4 linked regions of the Homo sapiens genome follow. The protein of the gene in region 4 purifies or fractionates together with the protein of the main gene of each other region. This does not show direct contact. Each region holds a gene or a part of one and is shown on either strand. Other genes may lie near its edges.

Region 1 (6,986 bases), on a different chromosome or scaffold from region 4:
ACACCAGCGATGACCCAACCCCAGATACTCCCAGGGATAGCAGGGAAGGCAGGGGAGGAAAAGCACACCCCTGGGCAGCACCATAGCAACAGACCAGCCAATCAGCAGGCACTGCCGCACAGCGGCACTTGCCAAACCTTGCCTGGCGGAGAGCTGAGGGCGGGGCGAGGACAGGAGCTGCGAGGGGAAGGGGCACGAGGGGCGGGGCCGTCCCAGAGGCTCTGCCCCAGGCTGACCCCAAGCTTGCTGTCCCCAACCAGAGTCCTCACAGGACGCAGGCCAGGAAGGGTGCCAGCTCTCCAGCTGTCTCCTCATTCGCCCAAAATACCTGCCTCCCTTCCTCTCAGACCCCTCCAGGAGCTGCAGCCCACTCTGAAGATGCTCAGGCCGGTGCAGGTGCTGCAGACACCCCCTCACAGCCTGTCCGGTGGCAGACAGGGTGCGAAGGTTCACGGCTAGGCAACCTCCCGCCAGGTCGGGCAGTGAGAGCCCAAGCCAAGGGGGACAGGCAGGGGCTGGCCTGTGTCTTCCTGGTCTGAGTCCACAGGCCTGGAGGAGGAGACAGATGGGGGCCCCAATACCCAGAGGCCTAACACAGACGGAAGCAGCACCAGGAGGCAGTCAGAGGCCTCCCCACCAGGTCCCAGGCCCAGCATCCCCACCAGGTACCAGGCCCAGCGTCCCCACCAGGTCCCAGGCCCAGCAGCCACCGGGGCACTGCCCTTGTCCAGGACCACGGCCGGCCAGGCCCATGCTCAGCGTTCCATGCTATCCCAAGGACCCCCGCTGCATGGGACTGGGGACACCCAGCAGGCACTCCTGTCCTGGAAATCCAGGTGAGGACCTCGGAAATGACGCCTGCTTGAGAATTTCCATCAGCACATCTGCCCAACCCCCCGTCCCAGAGTCACGTCCTGCAGGCATCACCGGGACGAGCCGGCAGCTCCTGTCAGGGAACCTGGGGGCACAAAGGCAGAGCCCCTTCTTAGGACCAACAAAAAGGCCTGGACAACCACACATCAAGATGACTGAGGGTCCTTGGTGCCACCAGACCAAAAACCACAGCGAACAAGAAGCAACACAGAGGATGTCTCCAGCAACACAGCACATGCCTCCAGTAAGCGGGAGCCTCCCTGCAGGCCCATGTTCCGCCCACCCTGTCCCTCCAAGGGCCAGGGCCCAGAAACGCCTGGTAGTGGGTCATGCGGGACCACCTGGCTCAGTCTCTGCCAGGGGAGCGCCGCCCTAAATACAAGAGCAGCTTCAGGGTCCTCAGTCCTGGCACACTGAGCACTCAGCAAACGTGAGTGCAGAAAGCAGCCCACAGGACCGCCGATGCCTTCTGAGTGCTCCGGGGCCACCTCACCTGAGGCTTGAGCCCCAACTGAGGCAGGAAACAGAGGGAACCCTGATCCCACAGAAGCACAGACCGCGCCGACTGCACAGATGCCACCCTCAGGTCACAGAAACTGTAAGGGCAGCCAACGGGGGTGCACCCTGCCACTGTCTCTAGGACCCCGTGATGAGCCCCAGAAGCCCTTGACATACCCGAGGGGCAGCCACGTGGGTGGAGAAGCACCCCCGGCCCTCACAGGCTGTGGCCACGTGCAGTCACAGGGCAAGCTGCCCCGGCCGGCTCCTGTCACTCACATCCCGTCTCCAGAAGAGGCCCCAAGGCATCCCGTGTTGGACCCACAGGACTCAGCCTGGAGTCACACTCAGGGCCATAATTTTCCGCAGCAAGGTCAGCACAGGAAAAAGACACACGGGGCAGGGTCGCGGGAGGCCAGACACGGCTTCCAGGACACCCTCCCAAGATGGTATGAGGGCCGGTCACTGGAGCACCTGCTGCTGGGCAAGCAACAAAGTCCCCGAAGAGAAAGCCGGTGTTCAGCAAAACCCCTACTGTTTGCACCAGCAGGTTAGGTGCAGGGAGACCCTCTCATCAGGAAATGGAGGGAGCCTTCCCAAAATCCAAGGCCCCAGGCACCAGCCAGAGGCAGTCTTGCCGGCTGGCTGTCTCAGACCACTGTGTGAGCTCTTCCACACAGAAGTCTAACATGGGTGGCCCCGAGTCAGAAGACAGGGCCCAGGTACATGGCCGCACTGGCCGCCCCACCGGGCAAGCACAACCAGGCTGTGACACCACTGAGCTCCACCCTGAGAGGCTGCACACACTCCAACCCGACCCTGGTCCCACCCAGCTGCTTGTACCTTCTACGTTGTTGTAGAAATGACAGGAGCGACTTGCCACCTTCTTACGGCACAAGTGGATCTGTGGGAGGAAGGGCAGAGTGCGCAGCTGAAGCACGGCCAAGAAAGGACCGAAGCCAGTCCCCACCCCCACCAGGTCCTCCCCTGCAGTCCCCCAGTGAACTTCAAACCCTAGCCCAGCGGGAGCGCAGCCTGGGGCTCTGGACACCCAGCAGCACTCGCCTGTCGGACACTGAGCCGGAGCGGGAGCCCAGGAGCCTACCTGTAGATGGTTACTCTCTTGTTTCTTCACCTCAGGATGGATGCACAGCTGCTCCCGGGAGCCCAGCACACACACCTTAGGCCTGGTGGGAGAGAGCACCGTGGGTCGAGGAGGAGCTGTCTCCAACACCCACAGCGTGGCCCTGCAGCGTGAGCTGTATGGAGACACGCAGGAGCCTCGGCGGTCAGAGGAAGTGAGCATAACTGAAACGTGGCCCGGGCGTAGGAGGGAGCTAGAAGACGAGCGGGGGTACTGGACAGAGGGAGGAGATTCGACAGCTTCCACAGCACCCTGCCACTGGTCCGGCCACAGGAACCCGACAGAACACCAAGACTCTGCTGGGCTCTGACAAGCAGCAGGGCCTCCTCCTACTTCATGTGCAAAGCTGCACTGGGGGCCAGCCCTGACCTACTGCACAGCTGCTACAACAGCACCTGCGAGGAGCTCAGGACGCCCGCCCAAGGTCAGCACACAGATGCAAAGCTGCTTCCTCACAAGTAATGGGCATTGGAGGCAGCCCAGGCCGCACCCCACCCCTGGGCACCAGCGCTCTGCACACTTCGGGGGAGCGTCTAGAAAGACCACCACCCTCCACCACAGCACAGCATGGGGCTGTGGACTCAGCACCATGCCAAGCTGGTTCTCTTGAGGACCCCGAGACAGGTGTAAACTCGTCTGACCCACCGGTAGGAGGTGTTCCGAAGCTCGTTGATGACCTGTGTGAGTTGCGAGTGGGTCCTGGAGGCGTAAATAATCTTTGGGATGTCCGTGTAGCAAGCTGACCAGACACAAGCAAGCACAGAAGTCACGGTTCTCAGACAACGTTCTCACGTATCAAAGGCAGGTGGCATTCGGCTAACTCGGCCCTGCAGACAGCCAAGAATCTGACACCCCAGATACTGGTTTATCAAAAATGGGTGAAGTGGGCATCTGCCGTGCCCTAATTCAGCAAAAAAGCCCAACCCTAGGTTTACACCCACGATGGCGAGAAATTATACAGCAGCTAAAAAATTCTCCTTGAGTTCTGCTTGAGAGACGGCAGGAGTCCCCATGGGCCCACCCCACCCTCAGCGCCATCCCTTGCCAACCATCCCCACAGGAGGCCAGGAGAGGCCTGGGAACTAGGGTCACCTATGGGGTCTCCAGCAGCAGCAGCAGCGTTGCCCCAGGATGACAAGGCCCGATCCGGGAAAAGCTCTCCTTGCGCCCTCTCGGCAATCTTGCGGGCAGAGATGCCGTCTCGGAGGTGTTCTCGCCAGGCCAGCGTGGTGCACAGCAGGCACAGCGTCTTCCCTGTACCCGTAGGGCTCTCCAGGATGCCATTCACCTTCTGAACGGAGTTCGGAGCAAGGGTTACGGGGAAGCCAGGAAGAGGCGAGGCCACACAAGCTGCCCTGAGACAAGCTTCGGCAGCCAGCGGGCAGCTCTTTGCAGATGCAGAGGCCACTGCCAGGTGGCGAGAGCCCTGTGGGACCGCGGAGAAGTCCACAGGCAAGTCCCACTCTTGCCCTAAAGGGCGTGAAGCAACTCAGCCGCCATTAGCAAACGATTTGCAGAACGTTACCCAAAACACGACACTATTTTTCAGCTTAAATAGTAAGATGACTAATTAGGTGTCAAGTCTCAAAATAGGAAACTGTTCTGCGTTTCTGGATCCAAACATTTATGCTGTCCTATCTGACGTCCTACATACAAGCTCTCAGACGGGAACCTGAGCAGGAAACTCGGGGAGGGGAAGGGTGTGAGCCGGGTACAAGAGGGCACCTCAAGGAACCCAGGAGAAGGCAACCTGCACCACTGCCACCTCCCTGCACCCCCGAGGTTCAAAGACCTTCCAAGTGAGGCTGGCCACCGGCTGCCCCTCTAATGGAAATGCTTCCTCCTGACCCGTGAATATCAGCTGCTCCTCAGAGAGGCCCCCAAGGCACTCCTAAGTCTGTCACCCTCAAGGACTGTAGGGAAAAGAGAGATCAGACTGTTACTGTGTCTATGTAGAAAGGGAAGACATAACACACTCCATTTTGACCTGTACCCTGAACAATTGCTTTGCCCTAAGATGCTGTTAATCTGTAACTTTGCCCCAGCCTTGAGCTCACAGAAACATGTGTTGTATGGAATCAAGGTTTAAGGGATCTAGAGCTGTGCAGAACGTGCCTTGTTAACAATATGTTTACAGGCAGTATGCTTGGTAAAAGTCATCGCCATTCTCCAGTCTCGATAAACCAGGGGCACGATGCACTGCGGAAAGCCGCAGGGACCTCTGCCCTGGAAAGCCGGGTATTGCCCAAGGTTTCTCTCCATGTGATAGTCTGAAATATGGCCTCGTGGGATGGGAAAGACCTGACAGTCCCCCAGCCCAACACCCGTGAAGGGTCTGTGCTGAGGATTAGTAAAAGAGGAAAGCCTCTTGCAGTCGAGATAGAGGAAGGCCACTGTCTCCTGCCTGCCCCTGGGAACTGAATGTTTCGGTATAAAACCCGATTGTACATTTGTTCAATTCTGAGATAGGAGAAAAGCCGCCCTGTGGCAGGAGGCGAGACATATTGGCAGCAATGCTGCTCTGTTACTCTTTACTCCACCGAGATGTTTGGGTGGAGAAAAGCATAAAACTAGCCTACGTGCACATCCAGGCATAGTACCTTCCCTTGAACTTATTTGTGACCCAGATTCCTTTGCTCACGTTTTCTTGCTGACCTTCTCCCCACTATCACCTTGCTGTCCTGCCGCATTCCTCTTGCTGAGATAGTGAAAATAGTAATTAATGAATACTGAGGAAACTCAGAGACTGGTGCCGGTGCAGGTCCTCTGTATGCTGAGCGCCGGTCCCCTGGGCCCACTTTTCTCTCTATACTTTGTCTCTGTGTCTTATTCATTTTCTCAGTCTCTCGTCCCGCCTGATGAGAAATACCCACAGGTGTGGAGGGGCCGGCCCCCTTCAAAGGACGATCGTTTTTACTTGTCAATCCTCTCTCTGACCCCACCTGGAACACCAGCCCTTTTTATGACAGACGCTGCCTCTGGCCCGGAGGGGCCTGGCTGGAATGGGCCGGGAGAGGGAAGCACACCCCGTCCTGGCTGAAGCTCCACCCACCCGCAGTCCTTTCCTCGGGGCCTGTGCTCTACCTGCTGCAGACATTCCAGGACCTTGGTCATGTACTCCTGTTGGCATTTGTAGGGCTGGAAAGGGAAGTCTACGGTCACACCATTCAGGACTATCTTGGGCATATCAGCCTGTTCTCAGAAGGGCACAGAGCGTGGCTGAGGGGCAGGCTATTCGGGTCTGTGCGAAAAAACCACTCCGAACATCTTAGGGTCTCGGGCACTCCTGGTAAGCGATGCGAGCATGTGCACTGGGACACAACGCTGTTCTCTTCGAGAATCCCTATGGCACAGACCTGGGAAAGACAGTAAGACTCTGTTTGTAGACAGCCTTTGTGGGTACCGGGCTACTTTCCCAGGCGTTTCCATCAGTCCCTCCTGCGGAGAGGGTTGGAGAGCAACCCTGGTATATCCCATCTCGAGGAGCTGGCGGGGCGAAGATGCGAAGTGGCTGGGCCTTGCCTTATCCTCCCGCCCCACAACTCCGTCCTTCTCTGGAAAAGACGCCCACAGTGCTGCAAGTTCCGCCTGCAGTAATTCCGCGACTTCCACAAGAGCGTGAGGGCTGAAGAGGCAAGCGGCACCCCTCCCGGCCTCACCAGGCGCAACGTCAGAGCGGAGGGTCTGAACCTCCGGCCCTGCCTCTCCAGCCCTCTGCCCTCCTGGCTGGCTGGAGTCCATTCCCCATCCGCCCGGGTGGGCAACCAGATGCAGCCAAAGTAGCGAAAGAGCATGCCGGGATGCCAACCCGTGCAGCCCTCAGCAAATCACTCAACTTCTCTAAGCCTCAATCCCGCCCGGGAACTGGGACTAACAGAACAGACGCGGACACACTGAATGTCGGCCCTTCCCTCCAGCCCCGGTCAAGGGCTCAGCCAACGCCGCGGCGCCAGCGCCACGAGCGCAGGAAACTACAGGTCCCAAAATGCAGCGCGGCCAATCCGCCGACCCGCGGCCCCGAGGGCGGCTTGGGGCCTGCCGGGAGCTGTAGTTTCGAAAAACCGCAACGCGCCTACGAGCCGCTCGGGTAAAAGAACCACTTGTAGGGTCACTGCGACTCACTGCTCACTTGTCTCCGCGGCGAACCTTCCAGAACCGGGGTCCCTCAGGAACTCAACCGACTCCAGTCGAGGGCCGCCACCCGTCCCCAGCTGTCAGCCAGCTCAGAGTTTTCGCGGGCAGAGGCGCGCAGTCGGCGCTGAGCCCACTGCACTTCCGCCCCCCACTTCCGGTCCGTTGCTTTGTGCTCCCGGCGGAAACTGTTCCCCCGCGGAGGGGGTCCGCCTGCTCTTCGGCTCCTCCAGGCCTACACGGCGTTTTGCGCGTTCTGTGTCCGGCTCCGCTGGCCAGTGAACCTCACTTCCATCGCCCACAGGCAGAAATCTGGGGTCCCGCCCGTCTCCTCCCTTGA
Region 2 (7,911 bases), on a different chromosome or scaffold from region 4:
GGTTAATAGGTGAGGCAGTGAGGAGAGATTCCTATTTCAAAAAATTTCAAATGGTAAAAAACTAAAATCGTTTAAAAAAATGTTGGAAATGGGATAAGGGAAGTGAGTTTTTTTTTTTTTTTTTTTTGAGACAGAGTCTTGCTCTGTCGCCCAGGCTAGAGTGCAATGGCTCGATCTCAGCTCACTGAAAGCTTCTCCTCCCAGGTTCAAGCGATCCTTCTGCCTCAGCCTCTCGAGTAGCTGGGATTACAGGCAGGCACTGCCATGCCTGACTAATTTTTATATTTTTAGTAGAGACTGGGCTTCACCGTATTGGCCAGGCTGGTCTCCAACTCCTGACCTCAAGTGATTCGCCTGCCTCAGCCTCCAAAAGTGCTGGGATTACAGGCGTGAGCCACCCCAGGCCTGGAAGTGAAATTTCCTTCTCAAAAAGGGTGAGGCTTGAGTATGATGATAAACTAAAGAGAAGGAGATAGTGGGATGGAAGAAGTAATAGGGAAGAAAGGAATTAACCAAAAGGGACAAAGTCCCAAGAGGAGCTTGGACTGACAGCCTATGTCTCTTGTCTAAGATTAGGAGGAAAGATGGCCAGAAAATTTGTGGAGGTGGTGGGAATCTGACTCCAAAAGTGAAAGGGTATAGAGAATTTTTGAGGAGCAGAGCAAGCATTACAATAGCTACTATGGGGAATGAATCAAGTTAAAAGACTGCCAAAAAAAGCCAAGGACTCAGTTGGAATTGAAACTCAAACATTCACAGCAGTGCCAATCTGTGCTGATTTCCAACCTTCCACCCTCCACCAGCAGTGCTCAACATGGAGTGACTAGAGATTAGGAACATCCAGAATAGAAATGAAAAAGGACAAGGGGAACAGGATTTTGAGAGTACTAGTGAGAGGGCTGTAGGGATCTGATCAGAAGTTCAAGTTGAGTGGACAAAGGTAAAGAAAGGTAGTATACAGAGATGGAGCGGTGATCAAAGGCAGGCTTCTCAACAGAACAGAATTGGGAAAATAGGGTAGAAAAAGTCTCTAAGCCAAAAACAGAAAAGGGTGAGAGAGGTGAAAGGAGTGCCAGAATTGTGCCAGCAAAGTGGAAGAGAATATAGGGGGTTCAAGAATTCAAGAGAAGTTCAGGGTTGGGTGGTGGCAAACTCCAAGGCCTGGCTCTGGCATGGACGATAAAGAAAAATGGAGGTGACAGATACTGGAAGCCAGGCTAGAGGGTACACTGTCCACATTGACAGGCAGTGTAATCACCTGGAAGACTGGAGGGCACTGATACAGACTGTGAATCAAGTGGCAAAGTCCTCACTGAAGATGATTGTTGGTAGGTGAGAGCTAAAGAATGGTGAAAAGCCTTGACAGAAAAAGGATTTTTTGCATAAGGATGGTACCAATTTGCTGTTGTAAAATTTGTCCCAAGAGAGATAATCTAAGAAGACACAAACTCTGCTTTGGAAGATAATAATATATATATTTCTTTAAAATTGTGGTTTCAGCCAGGCACAATGGCTCACACCTGTAATCCCAGGACTTTGGGAGGCTGAGGCGGGTGGATCACCTGAGGTCAGGAGTTCAAGATCAGCCTGGCCAACGTGGCAAAACCCCATCTCTACTAAAAATACAAAAATTAGCTGGGTGTGGTGGTGCACACCTGTAATCCCAGCTACCCAGGAGGCTGAGGCAGGGGAATCACTTGAACCCAGGAGGCAGAGGTTGCACTGAGCCGAGATCGAGCCACTGCACCACAGCCTGGGCCACAGAGCAAGACTCTGCCTCAAAAAAAAAAAAAAAAAAAAAAAAAAAAAAAATGTGGTTTCTAGGAACCTTAAAACAAACTAGGAGTAATTAGAAACAGAATTAACTGTTTTTTTATTGTTATTTTAAGTAGAAGTAAAAATGCCCAACTAAGAATAAAAGTTACTTAGCTGCAAACAGATACCTGAGCCCAGAAAACAGGTTACACAACACCATGAACACACTATTAAGACATGTGAAGAGCAAAGGTCAAGAACAAGGAAACATACACACGTCAGCAGATTTATTTATTGCACCAATACCAAACAGGAAAAGTCTCTCTGCAGATTAGAAAAGTGATCTACTCAAGTAACATGAAAACCAGTGCAAAGGATGTAATGGAACAGAATCTCAGATTACAAGTAACTTCTTAAAGCCTTGTTCCATTAAACTACATGGATGGCTCATTTAAATGAAATATCCTGGATAGATAAATCCATAGAGTAAGTATATTAGTGGTTGTCAGACTGAAGGAAGGAAAAATGGGGAATGATTGCTAATGGGTACTGGGTTTCTTCTTGGGATGATCACATGTTCTGGAATTAGATAGTGGTGATGTTTACACAACAATGTGACTATACTAAAAACACTTAATGTACAATTTTAAAAGGTCGATTTTATGGTATATCAACTATATCTCAAAAAAGCTATTATAGAAAAATTTTAAAAGCAAATTTTAAAAAGCTTATATGGCATTTAATATTTAAAACTGATTTACATGAGTAATTACACAAAACCATTTACTTTTTTTTTTGAGACAGAGTCTCGCCTGTCGCCCAGGATGGAGTGCACTGGCGCGATCTCCTCTCACTGTAAGCTCCACCTCCCAGGTTCACGCCATTCTCCTGCCTCAGCCTCCCGAGTAGCTGGGACTACAGGAGCCTGCCACCACGCCTGGCTAATTTTTTATATTTTTAGTAGCGACGGGGTTTCACCATGTTAGCCAGGATGGTCTCGATCTCCTGACCTCGTAATCCGCCCTCCTTGGCCTCCCAAAGTGTTGGGATTACAGGCGTGAGCCACCGCGCCCCGCCACTTTTTATTTTTTTGACAGAGTCTCCCTCTCACCCAGGGAGCGCCGTCTCTGCTCACTGCAACCTCAATCTCGGGGACTCAAGCAATCCTCCCACCTCAACCTCCTGAGTACCTGGGGGCTACAGGCATAGGCCACTATGCCTGGCTCATTTACTTTTTAAAACCGGCCGGGCGTGGTGGCTCACGCCTGTAATCCCAGCACTTTGGGAGGCCGAGGCGGGCGGATCACGAGGTCAGGAGATCGAGACCATCCTGACTAACACGGTGAAACCCCGTCTCTACCAAAAATACAGAAAAATTAGCCGGGCGTGGTAGTGGACGCCTGTAGTCCCAGCTGCTCGGGAGGCTGAGGCAGGAGAATGGCGTGAAACCAGGAGGCAGAGCTTGCAGTGAGCCGAGATTGCGCCACTGCACTCCAGCCTGGGCGACAGAGCGAGACTCCATCCCAAAAAATAAATAAATAAATAAATAAATAAATAAATAAATAAATAAAACCACACATTAAGGGCCGGGAGCAGTGGCTCACGCCTGTAATCCCAGCACTTTGGGAGGCCGAGGCGGGCAGATCACCTGAGTTCGGGAGTTCGAGACCAGCCTGACCAACATGGAGAAACCCCATCTCTACTAAAAATACAAAATTAGCCGGGCATGGTGGTGCATGCCTATAATCCCAGCTACTCAGGAGGCTGAGGCAGGAGAATCGCTCAAACCTGGGAGGCAGAGGTTGCAGTGAGCCGAGATCGTGCCACTGCACTGCACTCCAGCCGGGGTGACAGAGCAAGACTCCGTCTCAAAAAAAAAAGAAAAAAAATACATATTTAGTTTGTGACCAGCCTTGGCAACGTGGAAAAACCCCATTTCTATAAAAAATACAAAAATTAGCCAGATGTGATAGCATGCACTTGGTGACAGTGAGACCCTGCCTCAAAAAAATAAAATAAAAATAAAAAATACACATTAGTTCTCAGGGGTCCTGTAAAAAAAAAAAATACACATAAGATGACAAAATACAAATACCCAAAAAGTACTATTGGGAGAAAATAAGGGACCTAATAGTCTAAAGAGGCAAATATGACATCAGAGTATGATTGTAGAATCAATGCACTAATAACTTTGGGATGCAAAGCATGGTAATGCTATGGTGAAATGGGTGTAGTAACTGTCCTAGAATACAAATATCCAGGCTGAGCACAGTGGCTCATGTCTGTAATCCCTGCAGTTTGGGAGGCGAAGGCAGGAGGATCACCTGAGACCAGGAGTTAAAGACCAGCCTGAGCAACATAACAAGATCCCATCTCTAAAAAAAAAATTTTTTTTTTTTGAGACTAAGTCTCACTCTGTCGCCCAGGCTGGAGTGCAGTGGCACAATCTTGGCTCACTGCAACCTCCACCTCCTGGGTTCAAGCAATTCTCTGCCTCAGCCTCCCAAGTAGCAGGGATTACAGGCACCCACCACCAAGCCCAGCTAATTTTTTTGTATTTCTAGTAGGGACAGGGTTTCACCATCTTAGCCAGGCTGGTCTTGAACTCCTGACCTCGAGATCCACTCGCCTCGGTGTCCCAAAGTGCTGGGATTACAGATGTGAGCCACCATGCCCGGTACAAAAAATTTTTTAAATTACCTGGGTATGGTAGCAAGAAACTGTAGTCCCAGCTACTCAGGAGGCTGAGGCTGGAGGATTGCTTGAGCCCAAGAATTCAAGCAGTGAGCTATGATCACACCACTGCATTCCAACCTGGGCAACATAGTGAGACCCTGTCTTTAAAAAAAAAAAAAAAAGAAGGATGAACTGGGCATGATGGCTCATACCTGTAATCCCAGCACTTTGGGAGGCCAAGGTGGGGGGATCACTTGAACCCAGGAGTTTCAGACCAACCTGGGAAACATGGGAAGTCCCCATCTCTACAAAAAAAATACAAAAATAGGCCAGGTGCAGTGGCTCATGCCTGTAATCCCAGCACTTTGGGAGGCCGAGGTGGGGGGATCACTTGAACCCAGGAGTTTGAGACCAGACTGGGCAACATGGGAAGACCCCGTCTCTACAAAAGAAAAAATACAAAAATAGGCCAGGCACGGTGGCTCACCCCTGTAATCCCAGCACTTTGGGAGGCCGAGGCGGGCAGATCACGAGGTCAGGAGTTCAAGACCAGCCTGACTAACATGGTAAAACACCTTCTCTACTAAAAATACAAAAATTAGCTGGGCATGGTGGCGTGCACCTGTAATCCCAGCTACTCAGGAGGCTGAGGCAGGAGAATCGCTTGAACCTGGGAGGCAGAGGTTGCAGTGAGCCAAGATCGCGCCACTGCACTCCAGCCTGGGCGACAGAGCAAGACTCCATCTCAAAAAAACAAACAAACAAACAAACAAACAAAAAAAAACAATTAGCTGGGTGTGGTGGTAGGCACCTGTAGTTCCATCTACTCAGGAAGCTGAGGTATGAGAATTGCTTGAACCCGGGAGACGGAGGTTGCAGTGAGCCAAGATCGTGGCACTGCACTCCAGCCTAGGCAACAGGGCAACATTCTGTCTCAAAAAAAAAAAAAAGAAAAAAAAGAAAAAGAAAACGAAGGATAAAACCATGACAAATATAAATAGTAGAAAATTTTTAAGAGTGGCCAAGGTGAGGGCTGGGCACAGTGGCTCATATCTGTAATCTCAGCACTTTAGGAGGCCAAGGCAGGCAGATCACTTGAGGTCAGGAGTTCGAGACCAGCCTGGCCAACATAGTGAAACCCCGAGTTGGGATGAGTATTTAAAGTGAGCGAGCGTAGAAATACTATGCTCAGCCAAGTGAGTACTTAACGAAATGAGTGTAGAAGGCTGGGGGAGGTGGCTCACGCCTGTAATCCCAGCACTTTGGGAGGCTGAGGGGGGCGGATCACCTGAGGTTGGGAGTTCGAGACCAGCCTGACCAAAAAGGAAAAATCTTGTTTCTACTAAAAATACAAGATTAGCTGAGTGTGGTGGTGTATGCCTGTAATCCCAGCTACTCGGGAGGCTGAGGCAGGAGAATCGCTTGAACCCAGGAGGCAGAGGTTGCAGTGAGCTGGAGATCACGCCATTGCACTCCAGCCTGGGCAACAAGAGCGAAACTCTATCTCAAAAAAAAAAAAAAAAAAAAAAGTAAGTGTAGAAATACACCTATAGCAGGACACAGTGGCTCACGCCTGTAATCCAAGCACTTTAGGAGGCCAAGCCGGACAGATCACTTGAGTTCGGGAGTTCAAGACCAGCCTGGCCAACATGGTGAAACCCCATCTCTACTAAAAATACAAAAATCAGCAGGATGTGGTGGTGCATGCCTGTAATCCTAGCTACTTGAGAGGCTGAGGCAGGAGAATCACTTGAACCCTGGAGGTGGAGGTTGCAGTCAGCCTGGAGCCACTGCACTCCAGCCTGGGCGATAGAGCGAGACTCCGTCTCAAAAAAAAAAAAAAAGAAAAAAGAAAAGAAATACTAATATAGCATTCCAACTTGTAAGCTTCAAATGATGTGGCAATGATTTTCATTTCCTTTTCTATTTCTTTTTTTTTCTTTTTTTTTTTTTTTTTTTTTTTTTTTTAGCAACAATGTCTTTTTCTTTCACCCAGGCTGGAGTGCAGTGGCATGATCACAGGTCACTGTAGTCTTGACCTGGCTTCAAGCAAACCCCCCATCTCAGCAGCGAGTAGCTGGGACTACTGGCCTGCTAGCCAGGGCCCTGCACCCAGCAAATTTTTTTTTTTTTAATGTAGAGACTGGGTCTTGCTATGTTGCCCAGGCTGATTTTCATTTCTGTTAGACTCATCTTTTTTCTTAATTCTTGCTTGAATTTCTATTCCAGTACAATAATGCAAGTCAAAGGAAGGTTAAAATATACCTTATTTAAACTGCTAATCTTTGTAATTACTGACAGTGCATCTCTGACATTTCTAAAATGAAGACACCTTCCTTTTCTACAAACTCAGAAAATGCCAATGAACTATCTTAACATTTTTTAAGTTCAAAACATTTTGGTGACAGACACAAGTCTACTGAAAGGTATAATAGTAGATAATCATGTTGCTTTGCTATACTGGCACCACCATTTATTTGTCATCTGTAAAATGACAGCTAGTGCCTTACTCATAGTAGTCAATAAATGTTCCTTTTCTTTCCTTCTTTCATTGTTTCAATGTGACCTACTCTTCACTGATACTTTAACACGGAATATAGGACGTCTTCAAAGACACTTAGTAATATAGAGGCTGATGTAAGAACACACAAATAAATAATACTATGTTTAATTTTTCAAGTTAAAAGGACTTCTTCACCTCATTTTGTCCACTGTACCAAACACCTTAAATTGCTGACGAATTTGGTTCTTTCAGCTAACAATGTCAAAGTTTTAGCTGTTTTAAAACAAATCTTCTTGGAAAAGCTTCAACACCTTAAAAATCAGTACAGTGGCCCACTGAGGTGGCTCATGCCTTTAATCCCAGCACTTTGGGAGGCCGAGGCGAGCAGATCACCTGAGGTCAGGAGTTGGAGACCAGACTGGCCAACATAGAGAAATCCCATCTCTACTAAAAATAGAAAAGTTAGACCGGATGCGGTGGCTCACGCCTATAATCCCAGCACTTTGGGAGGCCGAGGCAGGCGGATCACGAGGTCAGGAGATAAGAGACCATCCTGGCTAACACGGTGAAACCCCATCTCTACTAAAAAATACAAAAAAATTAGCGGTGCGTGGTGGCGGGCACCTGTAGTCCCAGCTACTCGGGAGGCTGAGGCAGGAGAATGGCGTGAACCCGGGAGGCGGAGCTTGCAGTAAGCCGAGATCGTGCCACTTCACTCCAGCCTGGGCGACAAGAGGGAAACTCTGTCTCAAAACAACAACAAAAATTTAAAAAATTAAAACAAAAATCAGTACAGTTTTCTCAACAGTGTATCTTTTTTCCACTTAACTGGGACTTTGGGCTACGGAAAACGTTAACCAGTACTAGTAAGGAAGCTCAATTTGCCTCTACACTAATTGGGAGCGCTGAAAACACCAGGCCGTGTCACAGCCTCTTCAGCTGTCAGTGAGACCCGCCACCTTCACCTTACCAGGTAA
Region 3 (7,911 bases), on a different chromosome or scaffold from region 4:
ACATTCCCAAACTTGGTCTCTTTGTGTTTGTTCACTTATTTATTTGTCTTAAATTCTTCACTTCGCTATCACATGTAAGAGTAAGGTACCCTGTGTGTGAACAGGGATGAACTACAACAAACACAACTATAGGACTACTGTGAAGCTGCAACAGTCCCAACTTAGACATCAACAATAATTCACATTAAATGGTTCTTCATTTTATTTCTAGATTTAAGAAAAACTAAACTTATTTAACAAAATTGGTCTGGAAATTAGCTTGATGAGATTGATTTTTTAATGAAAAAGCTTATTTGTGAATGTACATGCCATTGTTATGAAAAAGAAGATGCTAATAAGATTCACCTAATCACTTAGAAAATGAATAGCTTCACCTGCCTTAGAAACTGCAAGAAAAATTAAATTTTTAAAAAAAAATTTGGACAACACATCTCTAAATTATTTTTTAAAGTCTCAAAAAAATCTAAAAAAACATAAAACACCCAAGATCATTCTAACAGGCTATACTGGTGAAAACCAGAATAAACTCCTCTTTGAATGGGATTCTATTTCAAATGACTTCTCCAAACTCAAGAAAAATCACCTATGAGAAAACCTTAATAAACACTCTAAGCTAAACTCCCCAGGGAGTTACAGGATGAAAAGGACTTGGACATTTTAGAGCCCTGTTAACCTGTGGGAAAGTGCTATAGTATGACTTCGTTTATATGCCTGGTAGAGAAGAGAGCCCCCAAAGTTGTCACTTTCCTGCCCTGTGAAGCTTTAACGGATTTGTTTAGAGCTTAGCGGTCTTATTTCAGCTTTCTGCTCCCTGACTCGATAAGCCTCAGTTCATCATATCCTTTTGAAACATTCCTTATTACTTTGCTGGTGTCCTCCACTCACTGTCTGTTTGCATGGGAGGTTTGTTTTGATGATGCAAGACTGTGCACTGACCTCAAGCCTGCGTCTTCATAATGTGGATGATTCACAATGGGCCGAAGTGCAGAGAGCTTAACACTTGCCATCGTGGGCATGGCACCCGCAAACACTGCATCTGGAAGGCAAGAGGAATGTCTCAGGAAGACACTCAGTGAAGGCGAGAAGGTGTCTCCTTCAAGTGTAAATCAATTATTTCACAGGTAACAGAGCGGAAGCCCAGCAGGTTCATGACTTCAAGATTCAATGGCAGAACTAGCATGAAGTCAGATGGCTGATAAAGTAGCAGTTGGCAGCCAGGCCTGGGTAAACTATTTTCCTTGGAAAACAGAGCTTCATCATCTCATCATTAAAGATTTCTTTCTTTCTTTAAAGAAAAAATCTTAGAAATCTTTCCTGAATCTAAAAAAGAAGTATCAAATGGACTAGGAAAGCTTTACAGTAACAAGGAGTTCTGGAAGATGATTTAGTATTCAATCATTTGATACTCAGATGACAACAAAGTCTCCCTTTCCACACATGAATAAAATGTCACATTCCATGAGTTTATTTCAAGAAGGAATGTGAAGGACTAATATTAAAAATTCATTAAGAAAATAAGCACAGGAAAAATTATTTTAAATGTGGCATTTATGACTGTGAATAAATTTTGAAAAAATTAAAATCTATAAAAAATGGCAGAATAAATTACTAAGAACATATGTATAACATTTCCCCTGCAAACCATTTAAACAGGATTGATATCTCCTTTGTTTTAGATATTCTAAAAGCAACATTGCATAGAAAGAGTGAGATCAGTGGAAGTAACTAGGGTTTAAGAGTTTGCAGTGGTATATAAAATTGTGGGAAAAACAGCTAAATAATATGACTTTTTTTTTCTTTTTTTTTTTTTTACCTGGTTTAGTACTATATTTGATCCATTCTATAAGTTCTTCTTGGGGCAAATTGCTGAACTCCCCTACAATATTCCACTGGGTTTGCAGATTTGCTGAACCTTGTATTGACATTGCTGCTAATATAGCAAACACAATAGCACCAGGATGTACTTTGCAAAAGAGCCATCCAAATAGCTGAAACCAAATTAAGAATACATTGGTAATTGTTAGTATAAGTAGTATGCATCTGTTATGCAAAACTTCTTCCCAGAGAAGAATAAGGCCTCTGCTAGAGTCCCAAATAAAGGATTAATTATCCTAAAGAAAAAGCCCCAAAATAATAATCTTTGGGATCAAAAGGATTCTACCATCAGCCTCATATAAGTGGAACACAATGTAGGAAGCTCTTTTCTCAACCTGCTTTCACTACTCCCAGATTCAAGTAAAGCCACAACCAATTTACAAGGCCCAGTACAAAACAAAAATGTGGGGTCTCTTGTTAAAAAATTAAGACGTTCAAAACAGCAGCAGCAAACATTCAATCAAGTTCAGGGTCCTGAATGTGAGGTCCTGTGTGACCAGCAGGAACCCCACACTTGGAAAACCTGCCCTGGGTGACACTTTCTATTAGGTTGGTGCAAAAGTAATTGCGGGTTTTGCTATTTTTAACGACAAAATCCACAATTACTTTTGCACCAACCTATATCATCAGTCATGCTGTGGGATAAGACTCAAGATTAAAGGCTTCCAACCAGCCTCCTTTCCTGTGCCAGCCTGAAGGGGTCAGAAAGGTAGAAAGTAGTGCCTTTCTAACATAATACAACATACTGATTGGGAACCTCAAGGCTGGCTAATTTTTTCCACATCCAAATAGTCCACACTCCATAACAACACTTTGTTCTCTTGATCTTTCTCCACATGTCTACAGAGCTAGATTTCAAGTTTCTTGAGGGCTTATAAACACTGGCTTTTGACTTTTCTGTCTACTACTCTCTCCTCCATCCCTAGAGTGCGCAGTGTAGGTGCTTAGTGACTATCTGCTACGTCTAAGGGAGGTGCTGCTGTTGTACCTAGGCTGGTTGACTGATGGAAAGGTGACACTATGGAGAAGCATAAATCTGTGAATACAGAACAAGGAGGCAGCTATCCAGGAAAAATAAGCAGCAAACCACCAAGGAAGGCTTAAACTAAATTTTAAAAAGCACAAGTCAAGAATGTGCACACAAATTGCACCAACTGAAAAAAAAATAAGTTTGATACTAAAAAAAGAACATATAATTTTCAAGCACTTATAACCTGAAATTATTAGATTTCTTTGTGATATGAATGTCAAAACAAAAAAAGTTATTATTTGTACAATTAAGCTCTGCTTTCTATCAGCACCTGCAGTAATCACTCATGAACTCAGTCTGTACTAAATCGGTATTAGTTGTACACCAACAACTATTTTAAATCTTTAGAAAGATAGAAAATGATCAGCTTTGGCCCTTACCCTTTAAGAAAGATAAGTACAAAACCATGAAGAGCTTTAACTATAATCACTTAAAAGACTTTGTAATTCATTATTTTAGGGCCACTCAATAATAAAGGCTAAAATTATCATAGTAGCTATACTCCAACATAACATGTTACCTGTCTTGAGCAGATCAGTGATGCCATAACACACATGTGTGGTGTCAAGAAGAGTTTTAGTCTCATAATTAAAATACCAAGGGCTGTATATGCTAACAATTGCAATGCATGGTAAACCAGCTGAAAGAAAGAAGAAAATGTTTTTTACTCCTACTGTTTGTGAAGTTTAAGAATACTAAACTGGCAATATGCAGAAAGGGGTACGTTCTCCTTAGTAACAAAAAATACTACTAAGGTTTCTGAAACTTCGAAAACAATTCTTAAAATTCACTTTCAAACTGTTCCATTTTAGTGGAAGGCTAAAATTATAAAGTCATTAAGGCAAGTGTTTCTGTGATTCTCAGAGTCAAACCTGTGGTTAATAAAGCCCACATTTTTTAATCAACCTTGATGCTACCATCAGACCAAGAAAAGACAGTGGTAAAAGAAATGACTGCTGCCTCAAGATCTGAGGGCTCCACCTTGGAACTGCCCTCAAAACCAGACTGGACAACTAGGAGATGGGAGCAGTAACCAATCACATCTCTGAGGCCTCAAGCAAGGTGAGCAGAGAGGAAAGTGATTTCCAATCATGCAATAGACACCTCATACATATGTCTAAATGGGCTCCAGAAATCAACTGCCATTAGTGTAAAGATGATCAGAGCAGAACATATGAGTTTCCTAGTTAATTTTAACAAATGAATAGTCAGTGAATCTGCATATAGCATTCTCATAAAAACACATAACAGGCTATTTTCAAGATGATTGCTGACAATTGCCAACAAAGTTAGAAACTGGAACTAGAAAGGAAAGTCCAAATGCATGCAACTTTAAGATAAGTAAAATTATAGTCATATTAAGTCTTTACCTCTCCATGATCAAACTGGTGTTTTCTGGAACAGAAAAAAATATATTGCCATCAATTCATTATTGAAGCACTTACGTCATATATTTGCATTTTCATCTTGCAAACAGGAGTTTTACAACTTCTATAACATTCTCTCAGGACACACACAGGCAAATCAAAATAACTAAAAGTCACATGCCAAAACTGGTGCTATACTATTTTAAGAAAATTTATGAAGAATGACAATGTTGTATTATATCCTATTTGACTACATGGGTATTTATTAGGACAACAAAGGCACACGGTGGTGTCCCAGCTCCCTCACTGGTGATACCCCAGCAAAGCATGGAATGAAAAAAACCTTTGAGATTTTCACTAGGCAACCAAGTAGAGATAACAAATACGTGGTTATATGTGTAAATCTGAGTTCAAGGGAGAAGTCTGGGTCAGAGACAGAAATGTGTGAGTTGACAACACACACCTTCTCTTTCTTAAGCACTGATATGTTCCCAAGACCTAGAGTAATACCTGACACTTAGAGCTCAACATTTTTAATGAATGAACAAGTGTATCAATAAACTGTTAATCCAGGTAGCATATAATCTAATTTGAGAATCTAGCCTCAAAAAGACTGATATATTAGCAAACTCAGGACACATAAGGGGCTAGTGAAGGAGATGAAACAGTTCTTTATTCTTCTTTCACACCAAGTAAAAACTATCAGTTACCATTTGTTGAGTACTTACAATGTTAATATGCTTAGTACATTCCATTAACTCTAATCCTACAACCATTTATTACCCCAATTTACAGCCAAGGAAAGGAATCACAGAGCTAGTAAGTGGCAGCCAGGACTATATTCTGACTGACTTCAGAGCCAATATACTTTTTACTACATCATGCTGTCTCTATCCCACTTTACTTCCTGGGTCTTTGAGTAAAGAGAATATTGGCATTCATGTCTTTGATAGTTAAAATTTATGTCCTACTCTTCTCCTTTTTACACTGGCTTTGGTAGCTATGCAAAATAAAATGTCAACATGCCACTCCTCTTCCAAAAAAGAGCTCTGATCCTATTTGAACTGACAACTCCATGAAGCTCAATGGTTTCCTATAATTACTTCTATAGGTGAGTTATTACTCTTGAAGGGACAGCTTTGTTTCTGTGAGAAGTTCCACCTTCCTCTTCCAGAGTTGCATACTACAGCTGAAACTTTGTAGCTTCTTCCTGAGCTCTTCAAAAATAATTTCACCTCAAATGAAAAATTTCGGCATTGTAAACCAGAACGTTTTTCTTTCCCCCTTAGCCCTCAACTCAAATGTTACAGGTATAAACATATACCTGTATATGTTACAGTAAATTGTTTCTAAATGAGAACAAGGATTCTCTCAGGAGTATGTGCAATAATTTATCATTATGTTGGCAGAGACTTGGAGGTGAGGGAATAATACAAGGGTGTGTATATTCAAATTATAAAATAAAATATAGGGCCAGGCGCAGTGGCTCATGCCTATAATCCCAGCACTTTGGGAGGCTAAGGCAGGCAGATCACGAGTTCATGAGTTCAAGACCAGCCTGGCCAATATGGTGAAACCCCGTCTCTACTAAAAATACAAAAATTAGCTGGGCGTGGTGGTGGTCGCCTGTAGTCTTAGCTATTCAGGAGGCTGAGGCAGACGAATCGCCTGAACCCGGGAGGCGGAGGTTGCAGTGAGCCGAGATCGTGCCACTGCACTCCTCCAGCCTGGGTGACAGAGTGAGGCTCTGTCTCAAAAAAAAAAAAAAAAAAAGAAAAATTAAAAAAAAGAAAATATAGATACATACACATTCGACAATCCTTCTCCCCCCAAAATCCCACAAAAGAATAAAAGTAGAGTTAAAACTACCTTCACTCCATCCTCTAATCCCACTCTTAATAATTACAGGATTTATCTTTCCGGATCATTTCTATGCACAAACACATAAAAATCTCTAAATTTTAAAGAGAAGTATAATTATCCTATACACACACACACTGGCAATTTTAAAAATTCAATAATGTATACTGGACCTATTTCCAGAAAGATAGCCTAACATTCCACTCTATGTATCATAGTAGATATTTTGGATGTTTCCATTTCTCACATAACACACAATACTACAAAAGGCATCTCTCCCCATCATCTCTGTATTTCTGTGAGCATCTCTAGAGGGTACACTTGCACTGGTGGAACCTGCAGGGCTAAAGGACAGGCCCACTATATGTTTTACTGTGTATTGCCAAACTTCCCTCCCATCTACTACCTCCCACTCTTGCAAGCATTGGATATACTATTAATTTTTAGAAATATAAGAAGTGAAAAGGTCTTCACTTTAACCTGAATGGCTTTACCATAGGATCAAGACTACCTTTTCATGTTCATTAGTCATATGTAAATACTCATTCAACTACTATCCTTTACTATCTTGCAGGCACTGTATATAAACTGTTGAACAAAAATGATCGCTCCCTTCAGGAGATACGGGTCACACATCAACATTTAAGTACAAAGGGTGACAAATGGTAAGAGAGTAAGACAAAGGGTGTGATGGTGGAAAATACCAAGCATGCTATAGGCCTCTCTAACTCTCAGGTTATAAACAAACCCTCTTGGTTAATTTTGGGTTTTTTTTTTCCTATACATAATTCTCTGGTTCATCTGAAATTTATTTTCTGTAAAAAGTGAGGTATGAATCCAGTTTTATATTTCCCTGCTCATTTCCAAAAAGGCAGTCCACTGGTCCTAAAACCACTCACGTAATAATTTACTTTCCCTGCTGAAATGAAGTACAAAACTGTGTCCTTTGAGTGTAGATTATGTGCAGGGCTACTGTCAGACTGTACTGGATAACATCTGAAGGATGAATAAGTGATGTGCTGTGTTCTGCACAGATAGGAAATAAGAAGAAATGCCAGGAAGGGAAATGACCACAATAAAAACATCAATTATCAAATATTAGGTACACAACATGTAAGTATACAATTAATACACTGTAAATATCTATTTAATAAATGAACAGAGGAGGTAATAAAATTCTTAATAGCATATTTACCTTACATGTGTCTGTTGTTTAGCTAAGACACCCCACATATCACTAATAATCTGTAAATAGATTTTGAAACACTTTAGAAAAGCTGTGTTGGGAAAAATGATATTTTAAATAAAGTATCTTCTAAACTGTAAAATAACTTTTAATGAAAATATAAGTATAGAGATAACTCAGAAAATAATAATCACAACAACATAATCTTATATTTGTATAGTATCTGATCAAAGCTAATATTCAACAACCCTGTTGGGTAGATTATATCATCCTCGTTTTGTAAATGAGCAACAGGTTCATATGGATTAAATGATTGCCCTGTAGGTAGACAACTACTAAGAAGCACTGCAGTCTTGAAACCAGATCTTCTGGCTTCAAATTCACATTCAGCGCTGCTTCCACCATGCCAACGTTGTTGGCAACACCTCTTCTTAACAGTGCACTCAGAAAACTGGAGAGCTGGCTCAGAGGTTGATAATCACAGCTGGAAGCATTCAAAACACAGTCACTGTGCTTTCATATTCAGCAATAATGAGGAGGTCATCTAATCTAAAATCGTATCTCCAGTACAAATATTCTCTACAACACTGATG
Region 4 (8,635 bases):
AGCCGAGAATGCGCCACTGCACTCCAGCCTGGGCAAGATAGAGTGAGACTCCATCTCAAAAAAAAAAAAAAATCGCTTCTGGACCTCTGGAGTTTTCTACACATTGTTTCCTCTTTATGGAAAGCTCCACCCTTTGTCAACCGCTGGAACACATTAGTGATCCTTTAGAACCAACTCAGACACCAGATCCACTGGAAGACTTCTGCCTCGGGTGGGATTCCCACGCCTCCACGTGTGCAGACGCACTGGAGCATGCCTTTACAACATGCTTCCACGGGAACTTGCAAACGTGCATTTACGCACCCCTTCCCAACACGGTTATGAGCTTTTTGGGGGTCCGCACCATCCTTTCTTCTTGTCCCCTGGATCAATTGAAATATCACTCATTGCCATTTAAATTTGTGTTCTTTGCTACAGACTTGAACGCAGGCAGATAGTCACCGTCTTCAGGACAGTGACTTTGTTTTGCTGCAAGTCCATTAAGTTACCCATCACCTTGACGTCCTTCTGTGGAGGTGCTGTCCCGCCAGGCACTCACTGTGACTGCTCTCTTTACACCGTGAGTTCCATAGCAGCTGCATGCCAAGATTACTGTAAAGTCCTGGCTGGGGTAACAGGCAAGAAAGAATTATCCGGATGCTCCATGGCTACAGCAAATGGAACCTTTCCAAAAATGGTGGATGACAGAGTCCCTCAGCCTAAGGAGAGGACACTATTGCCCGAGACTCTCTTGCAAAACAGAAAAATTCTCAGATAACGTACTTCCCTTGACCTTGAGTGACCCAGGTTTATAGGCAGAGGGAGGAAAACAATCTGAATTACCACCTGCTAATAAAAATACTGAATCTGGCTAGGCACAGTGACTTACACCTGTAATCCCAGCACTTTGGGAGGCCAAGGCAGGGGGACCACCTGAGGTCAGGAGTTCAAGAACAGCCTGACTAATATAGTGAAACCCCATCTCTACTAAAAATACAAAAAAATTAGCCAGGCGTGGTGGCATGCTCCTATAGTCCCAGCTACTCGGGATGCTGAGACAGGAGAATTGCTTGAATCCTGGAGGCAGAGGTTGCAGTGAGCCGATGCACTCCAGCCTGGGCGACAGACCAAGATTCCATCTCAAAAATAAAATAAAAATTAAAATTAAAATACTGAATCTATGTCTACTTGATTAAACCAAAATTTCTTCTCCAAGGGTTCCTTCAAATTTCACGAGGGCATCTAATGCTCAAAACCTCCTCTTATCCAGCCCATTCTGGGACTAAGATTTTCTGGTGAATTCCAGGTCCAGCAGCACCATCCCTACCGCCATCCACTACTGCTGCGCTGTAAAAAGAGCCTTCCTACAAGAGCTGACTGCACCGCCCTCCTTGTGTCCTATTCTCCATGAACTCCAGCCCAAGGCGCCTCCCACCACTCTCTGACCCATCTCTCACCAAGGACCTTGAGACCTCCCGAGTGGCTCAATTCAACCACCAGCTCTCAGGCTTCCCGCATATATCCCACCAAGCAGCACTTCCAGCAGCTGAGCACGCCCTCCGTCCTAAGCACCTTCCTCCCTTGGCTTCCGGATGTTCTCTTGGTTTTCTCCCCTTTACTGGCTGTTCTTTAGGATGCCTCTATCTCCTCAACCTTTGAACAGCGTGCTCAACCCCTGGCCTCGTCCCACGTTAGTTCACATACACGAAGCTCCCAGGACAGAGCCCGGTGCCCATCCATGCTTCCTAAGCACACGCTGGCAGCATCGTCACTGGTGATCCCATCTAATCTCATGGGTTTAAATCCTCCCATGTTCTAATGGCTTCTAAACGAACTCCAAACCTGACCTCTCCCCTGAATGCCAAACTCTTACAAAGATCTACTCACTTGACATTTCTGTTTGGATGTCTGACAGGCATCTCAAATTTAACATACTGAAAACCAACTTCCTGGTTAATGACACCCCAAACCTGCCCCTTCCACATTTTCTGTGTCTGTTCACGGCAGCTACATCCCTCCAGCTGCTCTGGCCAAGAACTCCTGGTTCACCTTTGATTCCTTTCTTTCTCACACATCCCAGTCACCCCACTAGTGAGTCCATAAGCCAACCGCCCCTCACCACCGCCCGCCAACCTGGTCCAAATGACCCCACATCTCACTTGGATGACTGCAGAAGCTCCCCTCCCCCAGCACAACCCCAGCTTCTGTGCCTGCCACCTCACTCCCCCTTTCTTCACTCCAGCGAGACTCTGTCTCAAAAAACAAAAACAAAAACAAAACATAATATTCAGAATGATGATTCAGGGATAAACAGACCATCTCTAAGACATTCCCAGTCAACAGTGGTCAAAATTTTTAAATGTGAGTGCTTAAAAGAATAACTTTCACTTGAGTTTGATGTTCTTTTATGAAGAATATGTCTCTCCTCCAAAATGCTAGACAGTTATGAAGCTATTAAAGGTTTCTTTTCCTCCTTTCTTCCTAAAGAAACTAAAAGTAGTGTTATTGGCCGGGTGCAGTGGCTCACACCTGTAATCCCAGCACTTTGGGAAGTCAAGGCGGGTGAATCACCTGAGGTCAGGAGTTCAAGACCAGCCTGGCCAACATGGTGAAACCCTGTTTCTGCTAAAAATACAAAAATTAGCTGGCCGTGGTGGCGCACATCTGTAGTATGCAGGCGTTATCTGAAAATAATGAATTGGACCCAAGGGCTCCCTTCCGCCTCGAATAATCTGTGATTCTAGGATTCATTTATTCAAGAAATATTTATGGTGCAGAAAATACATACAGTCGGCTGGGTGAGGTGGCTCATGCCTATAATCCCAGCACTTTCGGAGACCAAGGTGGGCGGGTCACCTGAGGTCAGGAGTTTGAAACCAGCCTGGCCATCATGGCAAAACCCCGTCTCTTCTAAAAATACAAAAATTGGGCGTGGTGGCAGGCACCTGTAATCCCAGATACTCAGAAGGCTGAGGCAAGAGAATCGCTTGAACCTGGGAGGCACAGGTTGCAGTGAGCCGGGATCACACCACTGGACTCTAGCCTGGGCAACAGAGTGAAACTCCGTTTCAAAAAAAAAAAAAAGAAAGAAAGAAAAAAGATACACACAGTTCACACCCAGAAGGGCAACTGCAGCTGGCTGACCTCCTCAACAATTCCTGAAACCATCTCCTCTGCAAGCCTCTCACCGCCACTGCCTTGGTTCAGGACTCGGCCACCTGGATCATTGCAGACTCCCCCACCCACTCACACAGGTGGTCATGTTATCCCTAGTCTGACTCTGTCCAGTTCATCCTCCCTACAGTTGTCGGTGTGACGTTCCTAAAACACAAACTGTCACAATCCTTACCTTTCAGATACCCAGAACTTTCATAGTAACCCAAACTCGCTAACATGGAATACCCTTGGCATGGCGCACTGCAGCCTGGCATACTCTCCTAAGACCTCTCTGACCCATGCCCTGGGCACCAGCTGCCCCAGCCACCAGTGACATTAGGCATGAGGTTCTCTCTGCACAGAACTTGCTGCCTGGATCACGTCCACAGACCCTTCCAGATTCAGGACAACTTCCAAATTCATCCCTTCGGGAATGCCTACCTGCCTCCCTTGGGATTAGCCGCTTTCTCCTGTGGCCTTTTGATACGGATCTCTCATCGCCCTGCTTTCTACTTTCCCCCATCGAGCTGCAGACTTCTTTAAGGCAAGGGCTATGCTGTGTGGCCTCATCCCTAGCACCCACAGCGGGACCGGTGCTCAAAGGATAGCTGGAAAATGACTTAAAGAGCGAGCAGTCACCATGATGAATAATATCAGCAAATCAGAGGGCACAACATTCACTCTTGCTATTTGCCTCTCATTTTCACCTCCGAGTTTCCAAAGCACTTGAAAATGAACACTAAAATTAACTGCCTCCTTGCTATGTGTGAATTCCTCCCAAATTTCTCAGCTATTTGTCCAGGCAGTGTTATATAACTGCAGGCTGATGTGGTATTAAAGGAATCTTGTTATATAATTCAGCCCTACTCACTGCAGCTCGCTTTTCCTCTTTAAAGACCGTAAGGGAGAGGAGCAGGGAACCAGGGCCAGAGGGAGAGAGCTCTGTGCACTGTCGCCTGGGGCTGTCCCTCTCCCCCACCCTCCCTGGGGCCTTTTCAGGATTCCTTGGTGCGGTAGCCACCCAGGAAGGCATCTTCCTCGGCTCCCAGCGGCTGCTAAGCAAAGCCTCCCGGGCCTCAGGGAGGAGGACGAGGCCCTTGGCATCCTCCCCGAGCCCGGGAGCGGATGTTAAAGATCTTGTTCATTCAGCTCTGCTGGAGCGAAGACGGTTGCCAAACCAGAGTGCTTGTTTTATTGTTTTTTTAGAACAGCAGGACTGTTATTACGAGTATTCAGGGAGAGAGAATAGGAAGCGCAAAAGAGATTCCGCAGCATCCTAAAAATATCAGTAACATGAGAATTGCCTGCCCAGCAAGGCAAGGATCTGGACCGGTGGGCGCGGCAGGGCGCTTCTGAGCCACCGTCTGGCTGCCGTGCCACCACCGCCGGCGCCCCGCTCCAGGGCGGCCCGGGAAGGCCAGGCGGGGCCGCGGGCCCGAGGGGAGCCGGGAGCCCGGCGCGCTCCGCCTAGGGGTGTCCTTCCTCGGCCGCTCCCAGCGCGATCGCCCCCACGCCTGGACACAGACCCGGAGACGGGGCAGAGAGGGAGGAAACCTGGGGGCCCAGGGGCGGGGAGGCCGGGGCAGCGGGGAGCACGCAAGTCGGAGGCTGGAAGGGGGCGCAGCGCGACCGGCGCCCAGGGCTGGGGCGGGGACGCGCGGCCGGTGAGTGGGGTCCCCGCCGTCCCCCGAGGCCCTGCGGCTCCCACACTCACCGCGCTCCCCGCGACCGCGGTGGGTCGGAGCCGGGCTGGGCGGCGCGGGGCGGGCTCCGGGGGGCCCCAGGCCGCCGACTCGGCCAGCAGCTCGTCCAGCAGGCGCAGCGTCTCGTCCCTGCCGTCGGGGGGCGCCACGGGGCTGGGGTCGCGGCCGGGCGCCTCCTCCGCGGCTGCCCCCGGGACCTCGGCCGCCGCCACCGGCACCCGCCGGCGGGTCCCGCCCTCCAGGGCTGCCGCTCCGGGCCCCGCGGGGAGGCTCTCGGGGCTGCGCCGCCGCCTCAGAGTCCGGCTGCTCCGGCTGCTGCCGCTGCCCATGGCGCGCCCGCCGCCTCCCGGACCGCCGAGGGGGCCCCCATGAGGGGGCGCGGCCGGGGGCGGGGACGCTAGGGGGTGCGGCCGGGGCGGGCTGCAGGGGGAGGCGCGGGGCGAGGTCCGGGAAGCGACCGCGGCCAGGGGCTAGGGTTCCCGGGCGGGGGTCGCGGCCGGAGGACGGGGGTGCGAGCCGGAGCCTGGGGAGGGGCGGGCGAGGCAGGGCTGCATAGGCGTCCCGAGGGGGCGCACACCGGCCCTAGGGAGGGGCGGGCCCGAGACCCCGGCGAGGAGCACCGGGTGCGGGCGCGGCCTCCCCTCCCGGGTCTCCCCCTACAGTCCCCCCACTCCCGCCCACGGGTCCCCTCGCTCCCCGCCGTCGGGTCAGCCCTGTCCCGGCCTTCTGGAATTGCTGAACCCTGCGGGGGGCCCGGCTGAGTTTGTTCATTTATGGAAACGCTCCCCAGACGACGCTCGCCGGGCCCGTGGGAGGCCGCGGGAGCTTGGGGGGACTTCCCAAAGCCTGAGCCCCCTAGCGATGCGCGGGGTGGGCGGGGGAAAGACCCTGAGGGCTGCGCGCGCTGCGTTCGCGAGGTCCGGCCGTCAGTGCGCCCCGACCTTTCAGTGTCCGCCAGGCCTGAGACGCCCCGGGAGGGAAGGGGCGATCCTCCGGGCACCAACAGCCCCCTCCGGCCTTCTCCTTCCCTCTGTTGCCCCAGCGGAGACTGGATGTGTGAAGGTTGAGCCTCATCAAAACCTCCAAATAGTCACTACTTTTGGGAAAGAAAAACTTTGAAAATGAAGGAGAAAGGCAAAGCAACCCCCACCTCGCCCTCCCCCCGCCACAGGAAAGAAGCAAAAGGAAATACCTAGGTGGTGGTCATAAGTCTAGCTTTTGGTCTCGGATTTTTTTTTTTTTTCCCTTAACCGCTTTTCTTTTTAAGTGAACTAACCACAACCCAGACTAGAAAACACTCCAAAGCTGCCGAATTCAAACCCAGCGAGCCTTCCTGTTGGTTGGTTCTGTGTTTTACTTAAATGTGATTACTTCCTTCCCTTGCCCACCTCCTGCAACTTTAAATTCCAGCCTTTCCAAGACAGGGCAATTCAAAAGTCCTGGGTTTAACTCACCTATCTTGACTTGACATTAACTTTTATCCTGATTGATTGGATTCCAGAATAATTGTGAAAATGGAATTTCGGCTAAACTTTCCCAACCACAGACTTGAAATTCTACTATTTTATCACTTCAGGAGTAGACATTAAAAAACATATGCCTAAGAAAATGGAATAAAAATGGGACTCAGATTCACATCCATTTATTTTTATTATTAAGAGAGAACAAGAGGCCGGGCGCGGTGGCTCACGCCCGTAATCCCAGCACTTTGGGAAGCCGAGGCAGGTGGATCACGAGGTCAAGAGACCGAGACCATCCTGGCTAACACGGTGAAACACCGTCTCTACTAAAAATACAAAAAATTAGCCGGGCGTGGTGGCGGGCGCCTGTAGTCCCAGCTACTCAGGAGACTGAGGCAGGAGAATGGCGTGAACCCGGGAGGTGGAGGTTGCAGTGAGCCGAGATCGCGCCACTGCACTCCAGCCTGGGCGACAGAGTGAGGCTCGTCTCAAAAAAAAAAAAAAAAAAAAGAACAAGAAAGTATTTATAATCTAGCTGGACGTGGTGGCTCATGCCTGTAATCCCAACACTTTCAGAGGTTGAGGCGAGCAGATCACTTTAGGTGAGGAGTTTGAGACCAGCCTGGCCAACATGGTGAAACTGTCTCTACTAAAAATACAAAAATTAGCTGGGCATGCTCACTTGAACCCAGGAGGTGGAGGTTGCAGTGAGCCGAGATCACGCCACTGCACTCCAGCCTGGGCAACAGAGCTGGACTCTGTCTCAAAAAAAAAAAAAGAAAGAAAGAAAAGAAAAGAGAGAGAGAAGAGAGGTGAGACAGAGAGGGAAAAGAAAAAGAAGAGAAAAAAAATGAGGCTGTAATCCCAGCACTTTAGGAGGCTGATGCGAGCGGATCACTTCAGGTCAGGAGTTCGAGACCAGCCTGGCCAATAGGATGAAACCCTGTCTCTACTACAAATACAAAAATTAGCCGGGCATGGTGAAGGGCACCTGTAGTCCTAGCTGCTCGGGAGCCTGAGGCAGGAGTCACTTGAACCCGTTAGGCGGAGGTTGCAGTGAGCCGAGATCGCACCACTGTACTCCAGCCTGGGCAACCAAAGAGACTCCGTCTCAAAAAAAAAAAAAAACAAAACAAACAACAACAACAACAAACAATAAAGAAAAAGCAAAAAGAAAAGAAAAAAAATTTTTTAAAGGGAAGTATTTATGATCCCCCCTGCCTTTTTTTTGAGACGGAGTCTCGCTCTGTTGCACAGGCTGTAGTGCAGTGGCCGGATCTCTGCTCACTGCAACCTCCGCCTCCCGGGTTCAAGTGATTCTTCTGCTTCAGGCTCCTGAGCAGCTGGGATTACAGGCACGCACCACCACATCCGGCTAATTTTTGTATTTTTAGTAGAGACAGGGTTTCACCATGTTCGCCAGGCTGGTTTTGAACTCCTGACCTCAGGTAATCCACCTGCCTTGGCCTCCCTAAGTGCTGGGATTACAGGCGTAAGCTACCGTGCCTGGCCTCTCCCCCCCTTTTTTTTGATGTGCCATCTTAACCATCCAGGTGTAGGATGTGGGGCCAAACACAGATGTCATTTGGGTGCGCTAAGTCTACAGATGTGTCTCGTTTGGAAGCTATTGATATAAGTTTTTAAGAAAACAAATCTCATCTTGAAACTCTTTAAACCCCAAAGAACAACAACACTTAGAGGCAAACGAGATTTTTCTTGAGTTCACTCAGTTTAATGATTTAAAGGAAAACATGTTTTGCTTCTGCCTAAATAGAAGCTAGTCATGTGACTCATGTTTAAATACATCCACAGCTCCCTGTGTTCACCTCCCAGGGCAACCAATTTTTCTGGCCACTCTTGATTCCAACACTGTTTCCCAAAACTTGTCATTAGCTCCGCTTCAGCGGGAGGAATGCCAGAGCCAGCATTCTTTCCACTTTGAGAGAACATTTTAAAATCTGCTACATTTGTAGACCTGGCTTCCATCAAATATGCTGAAAACTCAGATTGATTTTATTAGAAGCTTCCCATAATAAGCAAACAACCTAAAAGCTTTCCGCATGACTAATGTCCCTAAGATCGTCTCTAGAATTTTTGTCCGAAAGAGTTAGCAACGTCTCAGGAATATTGGAGAACTGAAATGGGGTGTAATCCTTCTTAAGAAAATATCTGGCAGTCACACCTGCAGCTGAAGGATTCTTTTATGCGGTGATAGTGCTCGTGGGTGCTGGTGATGGTGGGTGGAAGGTGAAGCCCAGTTTGGGAACTCTCTGCTTAACTCTGGGAAAATAGAACTTCCTTTCCTTAAACAAATTAAACCCTGGAAGAGGACTACAG

The links.
Region 1: the proteins of CYS1 (region 4) and RTEL1 purify together in Homo sapiens (affinity purification with mass spectrometry; one large-scale study listed by BioGRID and IntAct). This does not show direct contact.
Region 2: the proteins of CYS1 (region 4) and SAR1B purify together in Homo sapiens (affinity purification with mass spectrometry; one large-scale study listed by BioGRID and IntAct). This does not show direct contact.
Region 3: the proteins of CYS1 (region 4) and DPY19L1 purify together in Homo sapiens (affinity purification with mass spectrometry; one large-scale study listed by BioGRID and IntAct). This does not show direct contact.

The regions. Positions count from the first base shown.
Region 1 is NC_000020.11:63,658,118-63,665,103, reverse strand, and holds the start of RTEL1 (regulator of telomere elongation helicase 1), read right to left. Parts: upstream 6,793-6,986; 5' UTR 6,638-6,792; intron 5,872-6,637; 5' UTR 5,702-5,871; coding exon 5,600-5,701; intron 3,807-5,599; coding exon 3,608-3,806; intron 3,255-3,607; coding exon 3,161-3,254; intron 2,631-3,160; coding exon of another isoform or gene 2,559-2,630; coding exon 2,477-2,558; intron 2,276-2,476; coding exon 2,215-2,275; intron 1-2,214. UniProt on the Homo sapiens protein: A probable ATP-dependent DNA helicase implicated in telomere-length regulation, DNA repair and the maintenance of genomic stability. Acts as an anti-recombinase to counteract toxic recombination and limit crossover during meiosis.
Region 2 is NC_000005.10:134,624,519-134,632,429, forward strand, and holds part of SAR1B (small COPII coat GTPase SAR1B), read right to left. Parts: intron 7,682-7,911; exon of another isoform or gene 7,559-7,681; intron 1-7,558. UniProt on the Homo sapiens protein: Small GTPase that cycles between an active GTP-bound and an inactive GDP-bound state and mainly functions in vesicle-mediated endoplasmic reticulum (ER) to Golgi transport.
Region 3 is NC_000007.14:34,938,340-34,946,250, forward strand, and holds part of DPY19L1 (protein C-mannosyl-transferase DPY19L1), read right to left. Parts: intron 7,378-7,911; coding exon 7,328-7,377; intron 6,798-7,327; exon of another isoform or gene 6,707-6,797; intron 4,301-6,706; coding exon 4,276-4,300; intron 3,968-4,275; exon of another isoform or gene 3,887-3,967; intron 3,546-3,886; coding exon 3,426-3,545; intron 2,496-3,425; exon of another isoform or gene 2,421-2,495; intron 1,989-2,420; coding exon 1,814-1,988; intron 1,037-1,813; coding exon 937-1,036; intron 1-936. UniProt on the Homo sapiens protein: C-mannosyltransferase that mediates the C-mannosylation tryptophan residues on target proteins.
Region 4 is NC_000002.12:10,075,057-10,083,691, forward strand, and holds the start of CYS1 (cystin-1), read right to left. Parts: upstream 5,356-8,635; 5' UTR 5,168-5,355; coding exon 4,850-5,167; intron 1-4,849.